Linked DNA regions of Homo sapiens: regions 1 and 3 are each reported to be linked to region 2. Evidence: microRNA targets listed by miRTarBase, many of them from high-throughput screens and not tested one by one. Region 2 holds a microRNA gene; each other region holds the end of a gene's coding sequence.
Evidence for each region. Region 2 holds the annotated microRNA hsa-miR-3135b (GGCUGGAGCGAGUGCAGUGGUG, at 1,582-1,603, shown strand). A microRNA usually pairs through its seed, bases 2 to 8, with sites in the 3' UTR of a target mRNA and lowers its output. Matches are read on the target gene's strand: a 7mer-m8 pairs with bases 2 to 8, a 7mer-A1 pairs with bases 2 to 7 and ends in A, and an 8mer does both.

Region 1: the mRNA of TUBD1 is a reported target of hsa-miR-3135b. Seed matches in the 3' UTR shown: 7mer-m8 at 3,162-3,168.
Region 3: the mRNA of ACP6 is a reported target of hsa-miR-3135b. Seed matches in the 3' UTR shown: 7mer-m8 at 2,760-2,766.

The regions. Positions count from the first base shown.
Region 1 is chr17:59,856,900-59,861,147 of GRCh38, forward strand. It overlaps TUBD1 (tubulin delta 1), which reads right to left. Exons shown (of 9, transcript NM_016261.4): 9 at 2,580-3,525. The coding sequence ends at 3,423. Among named protein-coding and RNA genes, the nearest start is that of MIR21, 18 kb to the left of the region's middle.
Region 2 is chr6:32,747,307-32,751,554 of GRCh38, reverse strand. It overlaps MIR3135B (microRNA 3135b), which reads left to right and starts at 1,576; the gene lies at 1,576-1,643.
Region 3 is chr1:147,643,541-147,647,788 of GRCh38, reverse strand. ACP6 (acid phosphatase 6, lysophosphatidic) reads left to right here. Exons shown (of 10, transcript NM_016361.5): 10 at 223-4,248. The coding sequence ends at 366. Among named protein-coding and RNA genes, the nearest start is that of ACP6, 25 kb to the left of the region's middle.

The DNA of each region.
Region 1 (4,248 bases), not on the chromosome of region 2:
TTTATAGAGCCTACAGAGCCAGTGAAGAGACATTTCAACACTTAAGCCTAGCCCAGACCAGAGCTCTGAGTTCATTGTTCTTTCTTTCTTTCTTGGACCACATTCTTTCCTGGAAAAAAGGTGAATATGCACACAGGCAAGATAACAAGCAATAATTAGGAAGCTAGAATTGTAGCACTAAACATCCCAAAAAGCTTCTTCAGACAAGGTAGCATTGATCCCTGTATCCTTAACATCTTCCTCAGTGCCTGGCACTGAATAGATGATACTGGTTGAATGGATGAATTGGCTGATAATAGTGAATTGTTGGCATACTTAGTGAGTTCTAAGTGATGGGTAAAATATAGGAGAAAGATGTTGAAAGATGTTGTAGATTGAATAGTAAGGGTGGATAGGGGAGGGGAGTTTTCGGGGAGATCCCAGGGCTGGAAGTGGCGAATGCATGGGAAAAAACAGGTTCTACAGCTTAAGCTCTTGAGGAAAGATTGGGGAGGTAAGAGAGAAAGAGCTTGACAATAAGAAACAGTATGCATTCACACTGTGCTCATTGTCCACAGGGGTGCATTCTGGCTCTGCAGGATAATGTTTGACAACGTAATGTGCCAGTTATCCCATAATCTAAGAAATTACACTTTCAAAGTTTTCTGGATCTGTATGCCCAGGAGCTAAGGGAGCCAATGTTGTCCTCCTGGCTGACTGGCCATTATCTCCACACAAATCAAAGCACATTTCCAATGCCACTCCATCTGAAGTTTTGACATCAGCATCTTGGTGTTAATTTTTAACTTAAAATCACAACTTTAAGAGCAAAAATTTTGTTATTCCAAGTAGACAAGAAAAAATTATTTTCCATGTGAATGTTTTAACCCAAGCTTTAAAATATTTAGGCATTGGCCAGGTATGGTGGCTCACGCCTGTAATCTCAGCACTTTGGGAGGCCGAGGCAGGTAGATAGCCTGAGCCCAGGAGTTTGAAACCAGCCCAGGCAACATGAGGAAACTTCGTCTCTACCAAAAATACAAAAATTAGCTGGGCATGGTGGTGCACACCTATAGTCCCAGTTATTAGTGAGTCTAAGGTGGGAGGATTGCTTGAGCCTGGGAGGTTGAGGCTGCAGTGAGCTGAGATCATGCTACTGCACTCTAGCCTGGGTGACAGAGCGAGACGCTGTCTCAAAAAAAAAAAAAATACATACACACACACACACACACATATATATGTAATAGGTAACCATACATATCAAATAATGCAGTTGTGGATCATAAAAAAGGGTCAAATAGCATAAGTAAATGGACCCAGAGCTCTGTCTAGTTGGGATTTGCTTCTAATGTTCACCTGCTAATGATTCCACGAGTTGCCAAATTAGAAATATACTTGCCCCTATTGGTACCTCATGAATTTTCTCAAATATCAAATGATTTCAACTTACGACTTTCTTTCAAGTTAACTTCTAGTAAGGTTCCTCAGAATCAGATTAACCCCTGGTGAGATACTCAGTTACAGATCTTCATGAATGCTGGTTTAGTCTGGGAAATTGTTTCAGTCTGTGGATCTCTTCAATGCTTAAACAATTACTTTAACTTGTTTGGTAAAAATTATGATCTAATTATTTTTCAAGTGTACTTGGCTTAACGAAATGCAGCAGCGGGGTGTGCCTTTTAGCAGCAGAACCGACCACTTTTTACATTCCTTACAAATAAGATATGGTTCAGTATTTTAAATCATAGCAACAGTTGATAAGAAAAACAGCAAAAAGGTAATCATTTCCATATGGAAAGAAAAAGAAGAACCAGTGAAGCTGTGAACTGTCATTTTTCCATATAAAAGTCACTATTGGTAGATTTGGCAGAAAGGGCAAATGTTCCTATTTGTTAATCATTTTACATTTGTTAATATATTGCATGTGATGTGTTTTATGGAAATACAACATTCCCTTCAAACTCAGTTGTCAATTTCCAAGCACGTTTTGTCTTGGGTGAAACCCGTATCTTGTGCGTCAATTTCATCAAGTAACTATATTTCCTTGGTGATAATTTTCTCAACTTAGTGAAAAATTTAGGTGAAAATTCTTACCCCTTTTACTGAAAAGCATATAACCATCATCTGTACCAGCTGAATACCTATAAGTAATTTCATTCTTTTTTTTTTTTTTTGGAGACAGTCTTACTCTGTCACCCGGGCTGGAATGCAGAGGCACGATACCAGTTCACTGCAGCCTCGACCTCCCAGGCTCAAGTGATCCTCCCACCCAAACCTCCAAAGTAGCTCAGACCACAAGTGTATGCCACCACACCCAGCTAATTAAAATTTTTTTTTTTTTTTGGAGAGATGGGGGTCTTACTGTATTTCTCAGGCTGGTCTCAAACTCCTGGCCTCAAGTGATCCTCCCACTTTGCCCTCCCAAAGTGTTGGGATTACAGGTGTGAGCCACCATGCCCAGCCCATTATAAGTAATTTTAAAGCAATAATTGAATAAAATCAATATCTGCTCTGGCATTCCAAGATCCAAAACAAAATTTGAGCCAATTTTCTCATGCCCAAAAAGTTTAAGAAAAGCACACTAAGTACACATTTACCTATTTACTTTTGTACTTAAGCATAAGCATTTATTACCAAAATCCTCATATTTATTTTTAAATAGCTGCTTAGAGTGGAAACTTGCCCTGTTACAGAATATTCAAAATACATGTTCACACTGTAGCATTTGACAACATCTCCCTCCTGTGGTTCAAAGCATTCATTTCAAACATGAATATATTAAGTACAGAATTACAATTCCTTAGCTTGAAATTATGCTGTGAAAGTTTGGTTCATGCTTTGTGAGTTGTTTTTGGAGTTGTTTTGGAGTAAAGATTTAGGAACATGTAGACAAAGAGAATATTCTCTTTTCTTGGCTAGTTCCAGAGTCCCAACATTTCAGCAAAGTGTTTCCCCAAAGTTCTTTATAAAAGCACCATTTTTTTTTCTTACAAATGAAATACCAAGTGAATGTTTTCATTGAAAACATGCGATTCTCCATTTTAAAAAGTTTTCTTCCTTTTCTGTGGGCATAGTATGCAGAATAGACTCAGCATTCTACGTGGTTACTTTAACAGAATGGAACTTTGAAAACATTTTTTTTTTTTTTTTTTTTTGAGACGGAGTCTCGCTCTGTCGCCCAGGCTGGAGTGCAGTGGCGCGATCTCGGCTCACTGCAAGCTCCGCCTCCTGGGTTCACGTCATTCTCCTGCCTCAGCCTCCCGAGTAGCTGGGACTACAGGCACCCGCCACCGCGCCTGGCTAATTTTTTGTATTTTCTGGTAGAGACGGTGTTTCACCGTGTTAGCCAGGATGGAGAACTTTGAAAACTTTACAGAGAAAATAGTATTGAAAATATTTTAGTCCAGAAATGCCTTAAGGTATACTTTTCCCATTGTTCAAGATCAGAGATTACAGTAACTGGCAACAACCTGCTCTAATGACGTGAAACTGTCTAAAAAGTCCTCTTCTTCGATTCCAAATTTTGTGTACTGATGAATGTAGGCTCTGGTAGAAAAAAAAAAAAAACAGAAATTACAAAATAAAAAATGTCTGGCAAATGAGTAACTCTTAAACAATAAACAGACCTTTTCTAGCTGATGAACATTTGAAGATCACACAATCGTTCAGAAGTCTTACATTTGCTTTGTTTACTCCAAAGATTAGTGAACTTTCTTTTTTTTTTTTGAGACAGAGTCTTGCTCTGTCACCTAGGCTGGAGTGCAGTGGCATGATCTCGGCTCACTGCAACCTCCACCTCCCAGGTTCAAGCGATTCGACTACCTCAGCCTCCCGAGTAGCTGGGATTACAGGAACGTGCCACCACACCCAGCTAATTTTTGTATTTTTAGTAGAGACGGGGTTTCACCATAATGGCCAGGCTGCTCTGGAACTCCCAACCTTAGGTGATCCACCCGCCTCGGCCTCCCAAAGTGCTGGGATTACAGGTGTGAGCCACCACGCCCAGCCTGAACTTTCAAAATTTATGTCAAGCTCCCTGTTTTTTCAGTGTCCAAAAAACTGGCAAAGGAGAGGCACCCGGGAAAGAGCAGCATGTTCAGATTTGGCTATCTACTCAGTATATATATATATACATATATAACACCCTATATTCAGTATAAACTCTGAAAAGTGCCTGAAAAGTTTCATATAAGCCTTGAAACTAGAAAACACATCAGTCCAGTTCTAGGAATGGAGTGAAGCCTCCCAGGTGCTCCCAGGACATTTAAT
Region 2 (4,248 bases):
TTTTCTTGATTTAATTTTCCAATCTTTCTATTAAATTTTCCAATTGTTTTTAGCATTCTATTATTACTTTTACAGATCAAGAATTCTAATTAGAATGACTTTAAACTTGTTTGCTGTTACATGAACTTTCTCTATTAAATCTGTGATAATTTTCATGTTATTTTATTCTCATCTTCTCTTTCATATTGTAAGAGTTTCTCAAACATTTGCTCTGGCCTCTTCAACCTTGTCCTTTACCTACTGTATACCACCTTATTTCATCTCAAGATACATTTCTTCAAGCCACTTCTAAACTGCCCCAAACCATACCTGGTCCCTGTGCAACACTCTCTCATTTTACCTCATTCTTTTTCTTTATAAATGTTTCAGACCTTGTAACTATGTTTGTGGAATTATGTAATATATGTATTTTCCTCCCACTGGAGTGTAAGTTCTATGAAGATAATGAATGTAATTGTTTTCACATTATTTTAATAACATTCAACAAACTATGAGTACTTATTGTAGCACTGGTACTCAATGACCATTTTTGCATTTTTGATGAATTAGTGAATATATAAACAAGTCTGGGGGCTTAGTCCAGCCAATAATAAAGCAAGCATTACTTTGCTTTCCTTTGTTATTATTAGTTCCTGCATACACATTCTTTATAGTTGCATTCCTGAGAGGTTCTTACAGTCTTGGGCAGGCCTTGGACAGGGTTTCCTAAATGTGATAAAAATGAGAAAAACTGAAAAACTAACATAACTTCAAACAGAATGCTTGTCTGCCTATGTTTATGGGACTTTCCTGAATACATTTAAAAAAAAAACCTTTGTATTACAGAAAATTTCAACTGTGTGCAATAGTACAGAGAAGAATTCCATGTATCAACAGCCTTGCTTTAACAATAATCAATTCATGAGCAATTTTGTAAACCCACCCAGTTATCATACAGGCACATACTGGATTATTTTGAAGATATTTTTAGGTATCATATTTCATTTATACATTTTTATTATGAAAATCTAAAATATAATGGCTTTTTAGAAACATAACAGCAATGCCACTAACACATTTAAAACGAGATAAATAATTCCTTAATACACTCAGTGTCAATTTTTCTGATTGCCTCATATAAATTTTTTAACAGATGTTTTGTTTGAATATGAATCTAGACAAAGCTCAGCGTTTGGTTACTATATTTCTTCAGTCTTTTTCAAGTGTATAGCTTTTCTTTTCTCTATTTTTAACTTTTTTTGCAAATTGTTTGCTGGAGAAATCTTTTTATTTAATCTAGTAGAACTTCTCATATTCTGAATTTTGTTGCTTACATCCTTGTGGTGTCATTCATCATGGGATTTTGTCTTGGACTCCAGAAAATAACAATAACACAAATTTGTTAACTTCTATAAACTGCTTACTATGGGCCAGACTGTGTGTGAAGTGCTTTATTTGTAATGTTTAATTCTTCATATCTCTAGTTTGTATGTGGTAAGTACAAACCTGAAATATTTTACGTGATTTTTACGTTTTGTAATTTTTATTTATTTATTCATTTATTTATTTATTTTTAGAGACGGGGTCTCGCTGTGTTGCCCAGGCTGGAGCGAGTGCAGTGGTGCAGTCAGTCCTAGCTCACTGCAGCCTCGAACTCCTGGGCTCAAGCAGCAATCCTCCTGCCTCAGCCTCCCTACTAGCTGGGACTACAGACTGGTCTCCATCTCCTGGGCTTTAAGGGACCCTCACCTTGTGCTGAGATTACAGGCATGAACCATTGTGACTGGAAATTTTGTAAAATTTAAACAATGTGATATTACCTATTAATGAAGTCATACTTTATGTATGTAATCTGAAATAATTCAGATAACAATTTTTAAGAATCATTTAATTTAAAATCATGCAGCCTGATTTATAACTGTTTATAATAATAATATAATAATATAATAATGATGATTTCACTTTGAACTTTTAGCTGATAAAAAGATATATTTGCTCTATTTTATAAAACTAATTTTAGCTATGCTATTTTAACATTATATAAATACTTTTTGAATACATTCTTTCAGTAAAATCCAACTACCATTATATTTGCTTTCCTCAGTATTTCTTGGGGAAGGATTCTAAATAGGGGAGCATTTGTGTATTTCTGTATGACTCTGGTTATAATGCCATTCAATGTAAGCCTTACACACACACACACACACACACACACACACACACACACACAAATGCACACACCTCCAGAATGCTGGGTTCTTGGCTCATGAATCATTGAAATTTATATAAAATTTATTTTAAATCCTATTGCAGAAAAGTTCTTAGCACATTCATGCATTTTCATGTGACCATTTTTATACTACAGTTTTAATTTTATATATTTGGGATCATTATTGTTGACCTTTTCTTTTCTTTTTTTTTAATAGAGTTTATTTTAGAGAAGTTTTAGGTTCCCAGAAAAATTGTAGAGTACAGATAGATGTATCCCATATGCTCTCTGTTCCCACACATGCATAGCCTCCCCCACTAGTAACATCCTTCATGACAGAGGTACATTTGCTACAACTTATGAACTTACACTGACACATCATTATCACCCAAAGTCCATAGTTTATATTAAGGTTCATTCTTGGTGTTGTACATTCTATGGATTTGGGCAAGCGCATAATGATATTTATTCACCATTGTGGTATCAAATAGAGTAGTTTCATTGCCCTAAAAATCCTCTGTGTTCTGTGATGGACGTTTTCATGATCACCACTGGTTCAGATTCCCTGCACTTACTAATTCCCAGTCTGCATTTATAATTATTTTCTCCCGGAGTCTCCCCACCTCCTCCCCAAAGTAAATATGGATAAACTGCTGTTGCATATAATTCACCTTGACTTAAAATTTATGGGACATAAGGAGGGAATATACCCCTTAGAGAGTTAAAAACCGAAGTCAAATATTACAACTTCTTGTCCTAAGAGTTCTCTTAGCAACCCAATCTCAGCCTCTCAAGAAAGAAAAAAATCCTCCAGTTAACATATGAAAAGAAACTCACTTTTACGTCTACGCTTGAATCTCCTAAATCACTAAAGGGCTAAGGAAAACAAATGTACTTTTCATATAATATGATCCATTCTTTTTAATAAATCCATTATAAACATAACTGCAGTGTTTTCTTATATATTTATATACTACGTGTAAGGCACTGTCTATATACCAAGATTATTCAAATTCTGTCAATAACTCTGCAAGGAAAATATTATCACTCCCACATTGTGGATGAGAAAAATAAGGTTCAGAAATGTCAATCAGATACTTTACCCAGTAAAGTTTAAAATACTAGCTTCAAAATACTGAGTCAAGTATTTGGATTTAGGTTTCTTTGTACAAAACTATGCTGTATCAATTATTATGTTAATGTTTTGTCTCTTTTTTTTCTCCTATTACATTTTAAACTCACTGATGCAGATAGCATGGACAGAAATATCCTGGCAGATTTCATAGCTGTTTAGAGCTCTCAGGTCCCTGTGGACCCATTTCCTCTGAGAGATTTTCTATTAGGAGACCACGAATCCAGTGTAGGACACAGCACCCACTACTGCTGCTACATTGTCTCAACTGTCTTGTTCTTCCTAGGATTTCTCTCTCATAGGCTCATGCTTTCCTTAGCCAGGAAGGGGGAGGAGCAGGGGGCTGGGGCCCCTAAATGGGTCTGTAGCTTCTACTTCTATCTGTTTTCCATTGTCACTAACCCTAAGTAAGGAACAAGCATTTGTTCCTTTTCAGATACCCCCTTATATTATTGCCTTATTTTAATATTTTTCTTTTTTAAAAAATTTATTTATATGTATTTATTTATTTTTGAGATGGAGTTTCATTCTGTTGCCCAGGCTGGAGTGCAGTGGCACAATCTTATTGCAACCTCCACCTCCCAGGTTCAAGCGATTTTCCTGCTTCAGCCTCCTGAGTAGCTGGGATTACAGGTGCCCAGCACCATGCCCAGCTAATTTTTGTATTTTTAGTAGAGACAGGGTGTAACCACGTTGGCCAGGCTGGTCTCGAAGTCCTGACCACAAGTGATCTGCCCACTTTGGCCTCCCAAAGTGTTGGGATTATAGGTGTGAGCCACCGTGCCTGGCCTTATTTCAATGTTTTTCTAACTGGCTTCCATTTCTTTTCCTGCCTAGAGAATTTTTATCTCCTCAAGGTGAGAAGGGGAGAGGAAAGCTTCTACTGTTGTCATTCTTCACAAATTTAAAGTTTTGAGAATGCAGTTTG
Region 3 (4,248 bases), not on the chromosome of region 2:
ACTCTTTCTTCCCAGTCAATTCAACACTTTTTGAGTGACTTTTACAAGCAGAGCATAGTGCTTTTATTCTGGAAGCTCACCGGGTAGTGGGGCCTTCCTGTCTGTAATATGTATGCACATGTATACCACATGGATCAGAGCCTCTCAGATCTCTGGGCTTAGCTGGAAATAGCAGAAGGACAGGTTCCTCGGCGGACCTGCTGAGTTATGTTTCTTCTGCAGGAGCAGGTGCCGAGAGGTTGCCCTGATGGGCTCTGCCCGCTGGACATGTTCTTGAATGCCATGTCAGTTTATACCTTAAGCCCAGAAAAATACCACGCACTCTGCTCTCAAACTCAGGTGATGGAAGTTGGAAATGAAGAGTAACTGATTTATAAAAGCAGGATGTGTTGATTTTAAAATAAAGTGCCTTTATACAATGCCTCCTGCTTTGTGTGTTTGGGAAGAGGAGAGAGCAAGGGGTAATGTACTTTAATATAATGTAAGGATATTTCCTTTCTGTGGGTTTACTAAGATTTCTTCCTGAACGGAAAAGGGGTATAATATTGAGACCAAAAGGATATTTCTCTATTTTGTGAGTTGGTTTCTAAGGTTAGAAGCATCTTTGTGTGACACGGGCTGGGGACATCATGACCCTGTAGAATTGTGTCGGTTTTGGACTTTAGTTCTTTTCTCCTATATTAATTTCACATGTATTGAGCTACCTACTAAGTAGTGATCATTATAAAGGTGAAAACACTCTGCCCTCAAGTTGTTGCAGTCCAGTGGGAGAGGCAGCCGAGTAAATCAGTGATACAGTGCTGTATGTTTTATGCTGTAATAGGTATTTGAGGGGCTATTTGGGTATAGAGAAGAAACTTCCTGCTCACATGGCAGGGGATGTGGGGAACAGTCAAGGAAGGCTTCTGAAAAAGTCCTGGCCTGATCTGAGTAGAGAAAGGTGGGTAGGAGTTAACCAGGAAAGCAAGGATGAAAGCGTGTTGCGTTTAGATAAAGGATAGGCTTCAAGGTCAGGGAACGTTGCTGGGTGGTGAGATGGAACCCTGATGTGGAGGCTCAGCAGGAAGAAGCAGGAAGGACACTGGGCCCCTGGTGGTTTTAGTTCCAGAAACAAATGTGGGCCCCAGGGCTCTGCAATGGTAAGGCTGGAACTACTCAACATAAGAGCTCCACCTTTAACTGTGCCCCCTAAGAGTACCTGATGATCCCCCTATCTCCTTGTCAATGTTGCTGTTCTTCTCCAGAATCTATTTCAACCCTTCTCTGATTTCAAACCACCAGTCCCTTTACCTCTCAGAGAAAACAGCAACCACAAAAGCCTCTCCACTTCCTACTATCTTAATATTGACAACTTCCAGATCAGGGAGCTGAGATATCTCAAGCTCAGGTTTCTCTTCTGAGCTTCAGACACTTTTATCCACTTGGATTTCACTGGCACAAAACTTTCCATGTTAGAATCAAACCCCCCTCCTCCCAGACCTGCTTCTCCCACACACTTCCCTATCTGAATGAAAGACACCTCCACTCTCCACCCAGTTGCCAAATCAGAAATCTGTCTTTGTTTTCTTTGTCTCACATTTTCCTATGTCTAATCAGTTAAGTTTTATCAATACTACCTGTTTATTTCTTTAATCTATTCACATATCTTTATCCTCAATCTTCAGCATCCCCTTCCCATCCTCAGTCTGCTGGTTACTGTATTTCCTATTTTACTAAGAATCTAAAAGAGATCAGAAGAAAACTTCCACATCCCCCAACACCCAACCACCAAATCTGCTAACCCAGTTGCATTGGTGCTTTTATAGCCTTCCTTCCTCCCTCTTACTAAGAATGAACCAACACTATTCCTATCAAAGCCCAACCCTCTAGCTTTACATTGACTCCTAGTGTCTTTTTTCTGGATTGTCAATTTTTTTCCTGACCAATTATTCTATTAGCAATACAAATATGCTGTAAAATCTCTTAAACTTTTTTCTCTGCATCTTTGAACTGCTGTTCTCTTTTCCTTCTCCCCTTCATAGCAGAACTCCTCAAAAGAGTTGCTACCTCTAATTCTTCCCTTCCAGTTCTCTCATGAACCAGCTACAATTAAGTATTCACCCCCACCACTCCATGGAAACTGCTCTTGTCAAAATCATCAATAGCCTTTGTGTGGTGAATCCAATAGCCAGTTTTCATTCTTCTTACTAAGCTTCTCATCAGTATTCCTAGACTATTTCCTTCACTGGCTTCGACAAATGCTTTCTTGGTTTTCCTCCAATTTCTCGACTTTGTTCCTGCTGAATCTACCTTTTTCTAATCCGTAAGTGTTGGGGTGTCCCAGGGCTTACTCCTTGGACCTTTTTTCCACCTTTTCCCCTACACTCACCCACTAGGTGATCTCAAGAATTTCCAGTTTGAGGCCGGGCGCGGTGGCTCACGCCTGTAATCCCAGCACTTTGGGAGGCCAAGGCAGGCAGATCACCTGAGGCCAGGAGTTCGAGACCAGCCTGGCCAACATGGCAAAACCCTGTCTCCACTAAACCTGCCTCTACTAAAAATACAAAAATTATTATATTTTTATAAAATTATTATAATTTTATAAAATTATTATATTTATGGAGTACAATGTGATGTAATCCCAGCTACTCGGAAGGCTGTATGTGTCTATTTATGGAGTACAATGTGCCTGTAATCCCAGCTACTTGGGAGGCTGAGGCAGGAGAATCACTTCAACCTAGGAGGCAGAGGTTGTGCTGAGCCAAGATCGTGCCATTGCACTCCAGCCTGGGCAACAAGAGAGAAATAACATCTCAAAAAAAAAAAAAGAATTTCCAGTTTTAAATATTTACACAATGTCTCCTAAATTTATACCTTCAACCTAGACCTTTCCCTGTGAATCCCAGTCTCATTTCCAACAGTCTAATCAATGTCTCTATTTGGATGTTTAAGATATACAATAGGTATCAAACTTCCCATTGTCCACAATAAACTCTCAATTTCCGTGCCTTTTCAAACTTACTCCTTCCACAGGCTTTCCCATCTAGGTAAATGACACCACCATTCACCCTGTTGCTTTGGCCAAGAACTTTAGAACTGCCCTTGACTCCCCTCTTTTTCTCATATCCTACCTCTACTACATCAGTAACTCCTGTTGTATCTCTCTTCAAACTATATCCAGAATTGACCATGTCCCAATACTTCCATTGCTACTGTCTTAGTCCCAGTGTCATCTTTTACCTGGATTATTGTAAAGGCCTCGTAACTAGTCTTCCTGTTTCTGCCCTTCCCTTCTCTGCCCATCTATTCTCAACACAGTGTTGCTTTTAAAACAAAGTAAGATCGTGCCACTCTTCTGCTCTAAATTCCCCATTGGTTTCTCATCTCAAACTAAGGGCCAGTCATAATGCCCTCACGGTCCTATGACATCTCACTGCACCCCAGCCATACTCGCCATCTTACCATTCTTCTTCTTTTTTGTAATAAAAACTTTTTACTTTCTTTTTAGTTGACAGATAATAATTGCGTATATTTATGGAGTACAATGTGATGTTTTGATATATGTATGCATGAGGGAATGATTAAATCAAGCTAATTAACATATTCATCACTTCATCTACTCATCACTTTCTTGTGGTGAAAATGTTTCAGATATACTCTTTAGTAGTTTTCAGGTGTACAGTCGCTGTGGTTTGAGTGCTTTTGTCTTCTCTAAATTTGATGTTGACACTTAGTGCCCAGTACAATGTTACTGGGAGGTGGAGCCTAATGGGGATGTTTAATGGATTAATGCCATTATAAAAAGGGCTTGCAGGAATGGGTTCCTTCTCTTTTGCTTTTCTGCCATATGATGACAAAGTGTTCCTCCTCTCTGGAGGATGCAGCAACAGGCACCATCTTTGAAGCAGAGAGACCAGGCCCTAACCTTCTGGTGCCTTGATCTTGGACTTCTCAGCTTCCAGAACTGTGAGATAATAAATTTCTGTTCATTACAAATTACCCCATCTGTGGTATTCTGTTATAGCAACACAAAATGGACTAAGACAACAGTATACTGTTATGAACTATGGTCACCATGCTGTGCACTAGATCACAAAAACTTATTTCTACTGTTTAACTGAAACTTTGTACATTTTGACTAACATCTCCCTTTTTCCCATCATCCCATCCCATTCTTACTATCGTTGAAGATGGAGTATGCCAAGTAGTCCTGAGCCATGTCCTCACCTCGGGGTGAGCACCTGTTGTTCCTGTGCCTGGAATGCTCTC